Linked DNA regions of Homo sapiens. The protein of the gene in region 2 purifies or fractionates together with the protein of the main gene of each other region. This does not show direct contact. Each region holds a gene or a part of one and is shown on either strand. Other genes may lie near its edges.

Region 1 (7,313 bases), on a different chromosome or scaffold from region 2:
GGATTACAGGTGCACACCACCACACCCAGCTAATTTTTTTGTATTTTTAGTAGGGACAGGGTTTCACCATGTTGGCCAGGCTGGTCTCGATCTCCTGACCTCAGGTGATCCACCCGTTCGGCCTCCCAAAGTGCTGGGAATACAAGCGTGAGCCACAGCACCTGGCCTACTTTTAGCTGTATGATCTGCCTTACCAGAACTGAGCGTCACCCCAAATCTCACCTCTCCACTAGAATCGCAAATAAAGTCCTACACAGTGAAGTGTTGACTTAGGAAACGGGATCGTTTTCTGATTTGTGTGTCATACTTCGGAACATTTCTAATGGAACCCTGCTGTTGGAAGGAAACAAGTTCTTCAACCATTCATCCATCACAGCTGAGTCAGAAGCGTTGTGTCATCCTGTACCACCCGACCTGCCTACCTCAGGCCCTACCCACGGGGAGCTTCCATCCTGCTGGTTGTCCTGAGGCTCTATGACCCACAGCAGGAAGACACTGCAGCCTGGTCATGCCCTTCCCATCCTCTGACATCATCTTCCAGGAGTAGGGGCCCGAGCTTCCACAGCCCACCTGCTCCCACCTACTGCCACCTTCCTGCCACCACACACTGTCAGGCCTTCATCCTGTCCCCACGCCCTTCCTCAGGTCACAGGTCTTCCTGCATTCCCCCAAGCCACTTGCCTGGCCTCTCTGGGCTCTGCTTTTCCAGCACTGTCCTCCCCATCTGATGCCCCTGCCAGGGTATTCTCCCCATGGTGTGACCCGGGGGGCACTCAGGCAAGTGGCCTGGCCACACTGGACCTGAGCACTAGATAGGTTGCCTGACTCCACTCAGAGGCAGAACCTGCCCCACGGGGCAATTGTGGACTGAGCTCCAGCTGGGCATGGCTAGACCCTGCTCTTCCTTCTAGCCAGTGACCCTCAATGGGCCCTGATGTGAGCAGAGGCAGTGGAGCTAGCCCCATCTCCTTTCCTCCCTTCTTTCATGAGCATTTGTTGAATGCCTTTTGTTGCCAAGACTGTTGAGCATGACCATTATGCCCATCTCACAGATGAGCAAACTGAAACCATGGTCCTGTTGCTTGCTGAGGCCCAGCTCCTGGAACTGCATCTGCATGGAGCAGGTGTGTGCCTGCACGTGCCTACTGGCTGGGTAGGCTGGAGCATAGCCTGGACTTGGGAGAAACTTTTTTCACCAAAGGGGCTCCCTGGCATTGTGGAAGCTAAGGTGATAGCTGTGGGTAGAGGTCACTGTCTCCACTCTGAGGCCTTGAGAAAGTTACTTAAAGTTGAAAAATCTCTGGGCAAGACCTCAATGTACTCATCTGTTCTAAACATCGAAGACAAATGCTGCCCCGTAATCCCAGCACTTTGGGAGGCTGAGGTGGTTGGATCACTTGAGGTCAGGAGTCCGATACCAGCCCGGCCAACATGGTGAAACCTCATCTCTACTAAAAATACAAAATTAGCTGGGCGTGGTGGTGGGCGCCTGTAATCCCAGCTACTCAGGAGGCTGAGGCAGGAGAATTGCTTGATCCTGGGAGGCAGAGGTTGCAGTGAGCTGAGCTGAGATCCCGTCACTGCACTCCAGCCTGGGCAACAAAGTGAAACTCCATCTCAAAAAAACAAAAACAAAAGCAGAAAACAAAAAACAAACCTCCAAAAGACAAATGCTGGCATCATGACCCTGGATCATGCAGCCTCAGGACACCCAGTAAAGCAGACTACAGTATTTATACTCCCCGTCTTAGCAGCAGGGAGATGGAAGCTCAGAGATATCCAGTGACCTGCCAAAGGGCATATAGCCAGTGCTGTGAAGTCCTGACTTCCAAGGTCTGTCCAAGGATCCCTCAGGCTCCATCTGCCAGGATCCCAGGAGCTGCTCCTGAGCCCAGCCTGAGATTCCTTGCAGAGGAAACTGTGACCTGTCCACTACTGACTTAGCTGTGTACCCTAATGGTCATGGGTTGGCAGAGAGAATGAGCTCTCCACCATGGGAGGTGTGTAAGCAGAGATGCGTGAATTCACCCCAAGGGCTCAGAGAGCACACAGTACTCTCTCAGGGACAGGCTGTCCCCCACTCCCCACAGCCTGGGCTGCTCCCTGCTGATTTGTGGGTGTAGCCATCCTTTCCCACGCATGTGTACAAGTGTGGGTGGGCAGCAGCCATGGGTGCTGATGAACCTTCTCCGATGCTGGCAGGTATTTTGCCCACACACTGCCAGTGTGGCCTGTTGGGAGCAGGAGGAGGCCAGATAGGTGTGTGCTGGTCTCAGAACACGCTTAGCTCTGTCCCATCCTGGTTTTCCCTTGGATAGGCTTGAACACACCCATCATGAACAGGTCTGTGGACTTGGTGCCCTTCCTAGATTGACTGAATCTACAAGGAATTGGCAGCCTTTTAAGGTGGGCAAGTCAGGATGATCAGCCCACTCTGCAGGGCCAGATACTGAGGCTCAGGAAGGACCAGGACTTGCCCAAGTTCACTCAGCTGGTTAGGGGCAAGGTTGGGGGGTCTTTAGCCTCCAAAGGGAAGACAGAAAAGATCCTTTTCCACCCCTGACCTCTACCTGGAAGACTCCTGCCCCAGGAGATGCAACTTAGATCCCTGTCCCTCAGGCCTCTCTGTCCTGCAGAGCTGGCGTCTGCTGTTTGGCCTCCTCCTCGTGTGAGCTCTGGGCTCATGCCAGCGGACTTGAGCCCCGGAATGAATGCCTGTCTCACACGGTAGATTAGATTATATAAATAACAGGCAAGTGCCAAATGCATAGCCCTACACCTAGCACACTATTTAACCACTGGCTCTCTGGGGAGAAAAGTCCTGATTTGAGGTGTTTGCCAATTTCCGCAGTGTAAATACTCCCAGCATTGCTGACTTCAGGCTACAGGGTGGCATTGCTGAACCCAGAGCTGGGAAGGGATGTTCACTGTTGCCCCTCACAAATTAGTTTCAGCCAGTGCCAGTGCCCAGCGGGGCTCCAGGAAGTCCTGCTTCTCTGGGTAACAGTTGGCCTGGCATATTCTTCCCTCTACATTGTGAAGGTGAGATATCGCCTCTGCTGGCTTTTATGCCACATGAGTTATTTTGTGCCAGGGGCTCCAAGGCCTACAGGCCCACAAGCATCTTTTCATCTCTGGAAGTGTGTGTGTATCTGATGGGGGTGCCAGCCCAGTGGGATGGGGACTGAGATGAGAATACTCTGGTATCTCCCTTGTGCCTCAGTTTCCTCACCTAGGATCATGGAGGCTGGGGTAAGGGTGAAGTGTTAGCTCAGGGCATTGCCTGGAGCAGGGCTCAGAACTTAGCAGTATGGTTACTGACACAGGTCACCTGCTGCATTAGGGCCAGAGACGCCCAAGAGAGGGCTTGTCCGTGGGGGTCTAGAGGAGGAAGGAGCTAGAGATCATGGAAGACTTCTCGGGAGAGGTGGCATCTGGCAGAGGTGGGAAGGAAGAACACTTTGGGTCAAGGGGCTTCTGGAAGCCTCTCCATATCCCATCCAAGGCATTCCAGCTCAGCTTCGGTCTTGAAAGTTCTGGGATTTAGAGCATATAACTTCTGCCTTTGGCGCCTCAGTTTGCTCTAGACTGTGAAATGGGCATAATGATCACCAGTGCCTCCCTGGGTGATGATGAGGTCCTCATGGTTCCTGGTGGTGAAGTGAGGGCAGGAAAGGACACGCTGAGCCCCACCAGGCTTAGCCCCAGGCTGGGCTCCCGAGGGCGGCGGTACCCCTGGTCCTTTTCTTCCTAGCCTGCCCATTCTGTCCTGGCACAGGGCCTTGAGGTCTAGCGCGCCGGGCTGCGGCGTGCTGAGGCGTTGAGCCTGCTGCCTCCTCTCAGGAAGAAACGGGGTCCTCCGCAGCTGACAGCCCTGCGGGGCGTTCCAAAGAACTTCAGAGGACAGGAGCGCTACCTCGAGCAAAGAACCGCGGGTGGGAGCCCAGGTAGCCGGCCCGCAGGTGGCCGCGCGCGCCTGCCAGTCAGCCAGCCCGTCCGCAGCCAGGTGGGCGTGCCAGGCCCAGCCCCCTGCGCCGGTCCGGGGCGGGGCGAACGGAGCCCCGCCCTCCCCGCGCGCCGGGTCGGAGCCGGTGCGGGAGCGGAGCCGCGCGAAGCCGGCAGGAGCACGCGGGAGCGCGGCCCCGCAGTGGCCCGGCCCGAGAGAGCAGCGCGCAGGAGCTGGAGCGGCGCCACGGCCCCCACCCCAGCGCGGACCTCGCCCGGAACTCGGACCCCGTCCTCGAAGCGTGATCTCTCCCGCCTCGCACGCCCTGGCCGCCGGGCCGCGGGCATGGACGGCGTCCGCTCGCCCTGTGAGTGCCGAGCCTCCCCTCAACGCCGCTCGCCGCCTTTGTGTGCGCGCCGCGGCGCTGCAGCCCCCTCCCCGCGCGCCCCTCCCGCGCCCCGGGCCCGCGTCCTTTGTGGAGCCGCCGCCGGGCCACTGCCTTCCTCCCACCCCCGGGCTTCCCTATCCCCTTTACAGCTGCCTCCGGGACAGCCTAGCAGAACCCTCCTGGGCCAGGGCTGGGCAGGGCGCGAGATCCCTCTGCCGGCCTCCGGGGCCCTCAGGGACACCCTAGCAGGTCCTCTCTCCCAGGGTTCCAGGGACACCACAGGCCCGTCCCTCTCCGCAGCCTGGGGCTGAGCAGGGCACGGACCCCTCCTCCCCAACCCAAGCCTCTGGTCCCGTCTGCAGCCCCCCTTTCCCAGGGCCCCCAGAGACGGCCCCCGCAGGCTCTCTCCGCGGCCGGGGCTGGGCAGGTTGCGGGCTTAGGGCGGCGTTGTCTCATCCGGCGGCCTGGGCAGGTGCGGCAGGGCCGGCGCTCACGCGGGCCTGTGTGTCCTTGGCCCACAGAGATGGACGGCGATGGCGGCCGCCGAGACGTCCCCGGCACGCTGATGGAGCCCGGGCGCGGCGCGGGGCCCGCGGGCATGGCGGAGCCTCGGGCGAAGGCGGCGCGGCCGGGGCCCCAGCGCTTTCTGCGGCGCAGCGTGGTAGAGTCGGACCAGGAGGAGCCGCCGGGCTTGGAGGCAGCCGAGGCGCCGGGCCCGCAGCCCCCGCAGCCCCTGCAGCGCCGGGTGCTTCTGCTCTGCAAGACGCGCCGCCTCATCGCGGAGCGCGCCCGCGGACGCCCCGCCGCCCCCGCGCCCGCAGCGCTGGTAGCGCAGCCGGGAGCCCCCGGAGCCCCCGCGGACGCCGGCCCCGAGCCCGTGGGCACGCAGGAGCCCGGCCCGGACCCCATCGCAGCCGCTGTCGAAACCGCGCCTGCCCCCGACGGCGGCCCCAGGGAGGAGGCGGCGGCGACCGTGAGGAAGGAGGATGAGGGGGCGGCCGAGGCGAAGCCTGAGCCCGGGCGCACTCGCCGGGACGAGCCCGAAGAGGAGGAGGACGACGAGGACGACCTCAAGGCCGTGGCCACCTCTCTGGACGGCCGCTTCCTCAAGTTCGACATCGAGCTGGGCCGCGGTTCCTTCAAGACGGTCTACAAGGGGCTGGACACGGAGACCTGGGTGGAGGTGGCCTGGTGTGAGCTGCAGGTGAGGGTGCCCCAGCCCGCAGGGGGCTTTCCGCAGGGTCTGTCCGCGAGTGCGTCCTTGGGCCTGTCCTTGCTCCTGCGCCTGGCCTTAAGAAGCCCTGGGGGCGGCGGGGCTCCATGTGTGTCACCCTCTGTGTGGATGGCTGGCAGGATGCATACCAGGTGTGCGGACGGCATGTGGGGCCTGGCTGTGTCCGTGCGCAGGTTGCGGTTTGTGAGTCAGCTGGTGGCGAGGGCAGGCCTCTGTTGTGCGTTTGGTGTAAGTGTGCACGCTGTGGGCGTAGAGAGGGTCCTGGAGAGTGGGCCTCGGAGGCTGTGTCTCTTAGGCTGCTGCTTCTCCAGTCCCGATGACCTACTTTAATGACCCAGGGAGTCTGGACTGTTGTGTCTTTGCAAAACAGTGTGGAGGCTTCAAGGCCCGGTGTGTGCAGTCAGAGTGTTTTGGGGGCTCTGGGCTGCCCATAAATTAGTACTTTCCTGTGTCCAGCAAGCCGTGGCTGCCCCAGCAGGGATACCTGCAGAGACTTCTTCTGACCCAGGGCCTGTGACCCAGAGGTGGTGCCTGGTAGAGCTCTGGGGACAGCTGGGCAAGGCCTGGAAGTGTGGTTAGTCGCCTCTGCTGCTCTGAGAGCTCCATTTGTTCACAAAATGGACGTGTGAGAGGTCTTAAAACCGAGTCATGCAGAATGCGTGTGGGGGTTTTTCTTGGCTGCAGAGGCTCTGGGCATGCATTTTTCATAATCCTGCCATCACCGTGGTGTCAGCCCCAGCCCTGCAAGATTATATAAACAGCCACCTTAGCTGTCCTGGGACAGCCTAGGAAGCAGAGGCCATGCCTGTCCAGGGGGTGTTTACAGGCCTCCCTCCTTGGAGGTGGGCAGCTGTCAGGCGTGAGCCAGTCTGGGAGAGTGCCGGCTGGAGGTGTAAGTGTACTCTGTTGGCCTGTAAAGTTAGCTGGCTGTCCAGTCCAGGCCTGAAACGGGGCTGGGGCTAGCTGGGGCAAGCTGTGTTCTGGGGCCGCTGGCCACACTGCGGGACTCTTGCATTTTTGACTCAGAAGTGGGATTCAATTGCTATATCCTCCGGCCCCGACAGGGTGGCCTGCGTGTGTGTGCAAGCCTGGATAATTCGGTGGGTGTCGACCTGTCGTCAGCCTTTCTCCCAAGACAAAGAGCTCCAGAGACCTGCCTCTCCACCACCCCTTGGTTCTGCCTTGGAGATGTGGCTTTTCAAGTTAGGGGTCAGTGGCATTGTGTGAGGTCCTTAGGAGGGACTGAACAGCTCCCCTCCCTCATGGTCCTGTAGGTTCTGATGGTACAGGAAAGGCAGTGGGTGGGGCAGGGGGCTGTGATCTGGGGGTCCTGGGGTGTGCTGGGCATTCCTGCTGCAAGGGAAAGCAGAGAGAAGAGAGGGCCTGAAAGGGGAGACGACTCTTGATTCTGGCGAGCGGTCTTCCTGCTCTTGCCCTTCTGACCGGAGCACCCTCAGGTGCTGCCTCTGCAGGGTGGTGGATGGAACAGGGGTGCTGCAGTAGGCTGGATTTGAGTTAGACCTCGGCAGCCAGAGCCTGCTGATCTGGCTGAGGCATCGCAGGCGCATGTGACTCTTGGAGCTTGTTAGTTCCCATTCCCTTTAAGGAAACGCAGGCGATTCTGTCTCTGGGTCTGTCCCCTGCAGGCATGGGGTGGAGCCTGGCCTCTGTCCAGGGGTCTCTTGCTCCTTGACTCTAGGTGGGAACAGCAACCGAGAGGTGCTTCTGGTCTATATGCTTTTTGT
Region 2 (7,274 bases):
TTGGCCAATAGCCTCATCTTTGGATATCAGCCTTATTATCTTAGCACGGGTAACTGACTTCAAGGAATGCTTTGAGGTAGGGGGAGAACAGAGGGAAGTAGCCTTGTTTTACAAGTTCCCTGGGAAATTGAGGTCCAGAGAAGCTGAGTGACTCGCCTAGGATCACATGTCCAACCTCCAGAGACTGGAGGGATCCTCAATCTGGTGCTCATTCCACACTTAACCTGCTGAATCTTAATCGGGGCTGTTTTTAAGCATTACAAAATTTCAACCAAGGGATTGCTAATGAACAATTTTTTTTTTCTTTGCCATGAGGGTATGAAAATACTTTCTACCTTGAAAGGCTATTAATTAAAAGCATGGACTTTGGAGTAACATAGACCTAGCGGTGAATCTGCTTTACAAACAGTGTGACCTTGAGTGTGTCACATTTTTTTCAGAACTAATTTTTCTCTTCTGTGTAAAGGGAATAATAACAGTACTTACACTTCATAGAGCTGTTGTGAAGATTAAATGGTACAATATGTGTAAGGTACCTAGTAAAGTTTTTTAGGCACAGAGTGAGTACTCAGTAGATGGTAGTTGCTATTATCATTGGTATCCACCTATTGCTATGTTGTACCCTATACTTTGCTGCTGGGTTACTAACCAAGGCATATTTTAGGACCTCTCTTTTTTTATCATCCAAAGCAGATTATGTAGAACCATTTCCATGAGGAAATGAGGGAGCTTATCAGGCCGTCATCTTGCTTCTTATCTAAAACTATCTCCTTATAGTAAGTTACCCCATAGGGCTTGGCATTTCTTCTTTTAGGTTTCACCAAGATCTACCTTAATCTTTCTTTTTATAGACAACCTGTGGCATCTAGTTGCCTCAGTGGTTGGAACCATGGGCTGGATGCATGTTTGTTCAGGCCAAAATCTCTTAAGAAGAACTTGTGAATTTGCACTAGCCTTTGCTGTATCTTTCTAGATTTCCAGGTCTCTCCTGGACCTTATGATGCTAAGTCTTCCCCAGTTCCCTCCATGGGAGAATCACTGTGGCTTGAACAGTCAGAGGAAGGTGATTTTGTCTTCTGTTTTGCAAAGGGAAAGGGTCTCTGGCTGTTAGCTATTACAATGATAAATTGTTTCTGTGTGAGTGTGAATGTAGAGAAGATAGATATCAGAAATGGCAGTTGCCCTTGCAATTGGGATTTTATTTCAGTTCTGGAAATCAGCCTTGTGGATAGCTTAAAATAAAATTTCAAAATAAATGGTTAGTCAGATTCATAGAGACAGAAAGTAAAATGGTTACCAGGAGCTGGAGGGAGGGAGGAGTGGGGAAGTTATTGTTTAATGGATAGAGAGTTTCAGTTTGGGAAGATGAAATAATTCTGGAGATGGGTGGTGGTGATGGTTGTACAACAGTATGACTGTACTTAAAAACGGTTAAAATTATACATTTTATGTTACATCTATTTTACCACAATAAAAAACATTCAGGCCCAGACTGTGGCAGATCTGCAAGAGTTACAGAGCACCACAACTTTGGAAGAAGCATCATAAAAAGGGGAAGTTAATTGTCTATTTTTCTTAAAATTGTGATTATTTTCTTCATCAGAAGCACAGAGATGCCCCTGCTTGAGAGGGGCACCATGTACCGGGCACTATGCTGTGATTTTGTGTGAGGTGTCCTCAGAGGATGGTTCTTAATGGCTGGTTTTTATGAAGGAGAGTCTGTTTTTGGACCTCAGGGAACTTCTGAGCAAAAGGAGCTCATCTATTTACCCTTGATCCAGGAACGACAGATAGAGAATATTTTCTGAGGAGACAAGACTTAGAAAGCCAGTACACTTTAAATGTTGAGTTTTGTAATGTCAGGTTGAATGCTGGCAAGACCCAGGGAAGAGCAAGTGTTGAGCAACCTAGCCTTTTTTCTGTTCCCAGCGGCAAGTCACTTAGTCCTCCCCCAACCTTAGAAGTCAGGGATAGAAAATTCTGTAAAAAGTTTTGGGCATCACTGCTGCCTGAAGCAGATGTGCACGCATTTCAACCATGATAATTGAAACCAAATTTTTCCATTTTGGAAATACTTTTTGACAAAGTAAGGTTTTCAACTGCAAAAACAAAGTCAGGGAAAGAAACCTCTTGATATCCCTGCACCCAGATTTGGATTTTTAGGATTTTGCTTGCTAAGTTTTGAACTGGTAAAACAGATCTGGACAAGATAATTTTTGTGTAAGTTTTCCTAAAGCAAGTGCTTTATTTGATGAAATTTGCCATCATCAAACTGACCTATTTTTTTTTTTCAATTTCTGGATGAATGTTCAAACTAGGTTAAACGGAATAGAGCACTAATAAACCATGTAAAAAATAGCTTGAACATGTGTTGGTAGATTTTTTTTTCTGTTAAATAAGTTCAATGCCTCTCAGGTCAGAGATCTAACTTTTTATCATTTATGAGGATTTTCAGAGTCTTAGCACAACTTTCCTGGACTTTTCATTTTCACTTATGAAAGTATATCATAGCCACTATCAAAACCACACACATACAAGGGCTCAGCTCTCCTATTCAAACCAAACATAAGCTTGGCTTCCAAAATGCCACATAATGAGGAGCATGTTTTCTTTTAGTCTTTCTCTCTTCTTGTCTAATTCTATCTGTCTGTGTAAAATGTTTTACATTTTTACACAGCCCACTTAAGAGTTTTCCCCTTGAGTTTTAAAGAAAGCAGTTTGTGACTTGGGGTTTTAGGAATGTGATTAGTAACATACCTGTTCTTGAGCTTGTTTATGAAGGAGCATGTTACAAGAATGACAGCATCTGCTGGTCATCTTTGGTGAATCATGATTGGCTTGTGTGAAGGCCCCAGTGTGGAAACTCCAAGTTCAATACAATTAATAACACTGACTCCAGTACACACTGCAATTTCCCATAATCAGAAGTGAAGTAGTGCTATATCACAGGTCCTAGGAGATTTGGTCTTTTTTCATTTGGCCTGGTTTGGTTGCACAAGGAAGAACGTCAGAGAGTGGGACATGAAGGGTTGTGCCTCACTTGGCCTGATGGGCTATGGACATTATCCCGAGTCAGTGGACATTGTTATTAAAAGCCCAGGCCTTGGAGTCAGATAGACCTGGGTTTCAGTGCCAGTTCTGCACTTACTAGTTATGTGGGACTTTTGGGAAGACTTTATGTCTGTACCTTAAGAGATAATGCTACCTACTTCCTAGGGTTGTTCTGAAGATAAAATGGAGGTAAGGTGCTTTAACATACCCTCAACTTTCAGGAAATGTTAACTCGATCTGTACCTTACTAATGCATGTGTTCTACGTGTCCATGTGGGCTATTATAGCGATTCAGCCTAATTCTATGAACTGAGGTGGCACTGCTGAAAGAGGATGAAGAGTATGGGGCTCTCTGGTAACCTGTGTGTAAATGGTACTTTGTGATAGCAGGACTGCACCACCAAGTCCTGAATCCTGCTGGCTGGACATCTTCAAGAGTCAGGTTCTTCATTAATCCAGAAGTAGAAATCTAAGTTTGATCATTTTGGTCTTGAACTTTAGGATTGGGATACTTACTAGATCTGCAGTTTGACCAGAGTGCCAGGGGCTCAGAAATCCTATCTATATAGGGTCCCATTGCTGTCCAGAGTTGGAGAAGCAGAGTCATGCCAATGACCTCATGAGAACCTAAAATACAATAGTCAACATGTCATCAGTTTATTGATTTGCAGTAAAATATTACTGGCAAGATATTCCTGAGGGCCTGCAACCACATTCTACCTCTCTGAAGGACAACCACGGGGGAGGCCAAACTGGTCAAAAGGCTGCAGAGTAAACTAGGGACTGAGTTATGGCATTGGAGTATTTACAGACTTCAAACTCCACCATGAGGATCTGACCTGAGGCTGAACCAGCTGACGATATCTGATGATTAAATCACTTTCCTAGACAGAGTGTGATGGGTTGGACCGAGGGCTTTCTTCTCTGTCTGATTCTTAGTTTTTGGTTATTCCTTTCTAAATGACACTTTCTTTGTTGAGAGTTTTTAATGCATTCAGCACAGCTTTGCCCTGGCTCACAGTTGTTTTGCCTTCATTGAGTGGTTTTGCCTCTTTATTCCATCTCATCTCTAGCTTGAACATAATGTGCTTGGGCCTCTTGTATGTGGCCAGTATCAGCTCATGACTTCTGAATTTTATTTGCATCTCTTGGAGACCTTTAGAGGTGAAACAGATCATAACCTTTAACAGCATTTCTCAGACTCCACTTTCCTTCCCTCTACATTCTCGCACACCCAAGATGTTCTGGAACTCCTCATTTGTTTTTTCTTTTCTTTTTTTTTTTTTTAACTTTTATTTTAGGTTCAGGGGTACACGTGCTGGTTTGTTATATAGGTAAACTTGTGTCACAGAGGTTTGTTGTACAGATTAGTACCTGTCATCACCCAGGTAGCCAATAGTTATTTTTTCTGCTCCTCTTCCTCCACCCACCCTCCATCCTCAAGTAGGCCCTAGTGTCTGTTGTTCCCTTCTTTGTGTCCGTGAGTTCTCATCACTTGGAGCTCCTCATTTGTTGGATTCCCCCAAACATTGCTGCACAATCAGCCTGCTTGGAGACTCTTCTATCCCCTGCCTTTCTAGCATGTTTTTTAGTATCCTTTCCTTTCCATTCACTGCCTCCATTTTCCTCAGCAATAGAAAGAGTCTAAGAACTGACACAGTAAGCAGTAACCTATCTCACTTTCTTCCCTCTTCTCTAGTTGTTGCTGGCTTTCTCTCACTCCCATCCTCCTGATTCTGTGTCATCAATGCAGGGGACTGGGCTGCCTAAGAAAGTACTCCTCTCTGAACGTGAGGTGGAGGGGTCATGGAGAGAAAGTTGAGGGGGACAAAGCCATCAGTATTTTAATGAAGGGGAGTGAGGAAAGCTACAGTGGTCAGTAGTTAAACCTAATTTACTTATCTACCTATTAATTTACTCAGTAATCATTCATTGAGCACCTGTCATGTGACAGAAGCTAAGAATTCAGAGGCAACTAAGATAACTGTCTTGGTTCTCATGGAGAGCTCACAATCTAGAGGGGGCAGCAGTGTGCTGGAGTCAGCACTCACCCACTTGGAAAAGCTGTTTGTTAAATTTTCAGGAATTTTCGGAGCCAGTTATTAAATATAGCCATTATTAACAAATTATGTAACTTATAAATTATATTAAAAATGAATGTAATAAATACCCCAAACTCATCACTTTCTAATTATTTTTTACTGTAATCTTCTAGGGCTTTGAGGTTATGTCTATTGTGTCTTGGTGTAGAAATACTATACAGTGATATGATGGTGTGCTGTTGCACATCTCTTCCCAAATCTCATGTTCGGTGGCATCATGTTGGTAGCTTAAAATCTGCCATGGTGGGAGTATTTACAGTCTGGAAATTGGCAAATGTTACAAATCAGGGCTCCTTTCCTCCCAATCAACTGTTAAACATTTACCAGCACACACTGTGTGGGGCAGACAGATAAGTAAGAGGTAATTAGAATACAATACAGAAGGAAGCACAGTACTGTGGGAATACAGAACTGGGGAAACTAACCTAGTTTCCCACTAGATTTTAACTAATCTAGTGAGTAGTGGAGAATGAGAGGGAAGGCTTCAGGGAAGAGGCTTGAAGGCTGGTAGGAACTAGCTAGACACGGGAGAATGAGTGGGGAATAAGATAGAACAGTTTTCTAGTGAGACAAAACTTCACAAGGCAGAGAGCCTAGTGTATTTTGGCTATTGCAAGTATTTTAGTATTACGGTAATAAGAAGTCTTCAGGGCAACGATGGGATTAAGGGCCAGGCTAGGTCCCTGAGATTTATTCTGAATGCAGTGAGGAATCAGTGAGGCTTCATGTAGAACATGCCTGGAACACATTGACATTTTGGAAAAGTCCCTCTGGAGTCTGGGAGGAGGTTATTATAATAATCCTGGCAAGAGACAATGATGACCTGGAATGGGGTTGTAATGGTAGCGAAAGTGAGAAGGAAATGGGGTGCAGGGATATTAATGGACATAGGATTGATTCGATTTATGGCTGTATGTGAGGAGTGAGAGAGAGAGAGAGGGAGGAAGATATCAAGGATAACACCCCAGTTTTTGGCTTGGATAGGTGATTGGGTGGTTGGTTATGCCTCTGAGATAGAGAATACAGAAAGAGTAGCAGGCTTAAGGGAGGGTGGGGAACATAAATTTTGAATAAGTATGAATTACCTGTGTAAAATCTAATTAGGGGAGTCAAATAAGACATTGGATATGTGGATCTGTAATTTAGAGGATAGAGGAGGGCAAGAAAGAAGGCTTTGGAAGGTGCTGTGCTAAAAGAGGGCCTAATTTTTAGAGCTTATATATTTTTATTTATAACTTTTATAATTACTATTTTATGTATATTTTATTTATAATTTAACTCTGAAGGCCAACTCTGCTTTCATTAAAAAATAAAAGTGTTGGTCAGACTATCCCCTTCTACTCTACCATCTAACGCTTGTAAAGACAAGTGAAGGGTCTTCAGGTAGAGTTCAGATGACAAATATGTCATGAGGACCTACTGTGGGCATGACCTCATGCTGGGCAGGCTAAGCTATACAGAGTCCTCAGACACATGTTCCTTGCCCTCTGGGTATGTTGAATCTAGTGTGAGGCAGGTAGGTGGTTGGATTTGTACCCTGAAAAAGTAATCAGGCACAAGGCAGAATTCTATGTGCCAGTTGAGTTACAGGCCAGAAATACTACAGGAATTCAGAGAAGGAAGAGCTCACTTAGAACTGATGTATCCCGAGGGTTTCATGGAGGAGGTAAAGTTTAATTGGTCCTCAAAGAACAGGTATTTAGATTATGATACAGGGAAAGAGAAGGGAAATATAGGTGTCTGCAGTGAACGGTTCATCTGCTTGGCACATAATAGGTACTTAGTAAATATTTGAGTAAGTGAGAGAGGTAAGGCTGGCATTTAGGTTCAGTCCAGGTCAAGGAGGTCCTTGAATACTAGTCAAGAATCATGACTTTATCCTGTAGACTGATGATTTTTCAGCTTTTTAGCTATAGAGTCCTTTGAAAGGAAATTTTATGTGGACCCTCAACATATAGAACAAATGGAGGCAGAGGGCTGTGACTGAAGCTTCAGCTCATAAACCTCACAGCCCCGAAGAGACCTGTGTGCAGTGAGGATCTGAAAGTCATGGTCAGATGACATTTTAGAAGGATCAGTTTGGCGATGGTGTGCAGGAAATACTTGGAGGGAGAGTATCTA

Evidence for each region.
Region 1: the proteins of KLHL3 (region 2) and WNK2 purify together in Homo sapiens (affinity purification with western blotting; 2 studies listed by BioGRID, with this or other methods). This does not show direct contact.

Annotation. Positions count from the first base shown.
Region 1 is NC_000009.12:93,180,073-93,187,385, forward strand, and holds the start of WNK2 (serine/threonine-protein kinase WNK2), read left to right. Parts: upstream 1-4,066; 5' UTR 4,067-4,313; intron 4,314-4,855; 5' UTR 4,856-4,857; coding exon 4,858-5,538; intron 5,539-7,313. UniProt on the Homo sapiens protein: Serine/threonine-protein kinase component of the WNK2-SPAK/OSR1 kinase cascade, which plays an important role in the regulation of electrolyte homeostasis, cell signaling, survival, and proliferation.
Region 2 is NC_000005.10:137,726,045-137,733,318, reverse strand, and holds part of KLHL3 (kelch-like protein 3), read left to right. Parts: intron 1-7,274. UniProt on the Homo sapiens protein: Substrate-specific adapter of a BCR (BTB-CUL3-RBX1) E3 ubiquitin ligase complex that acts as a regulator of ion transport in the distal nephron.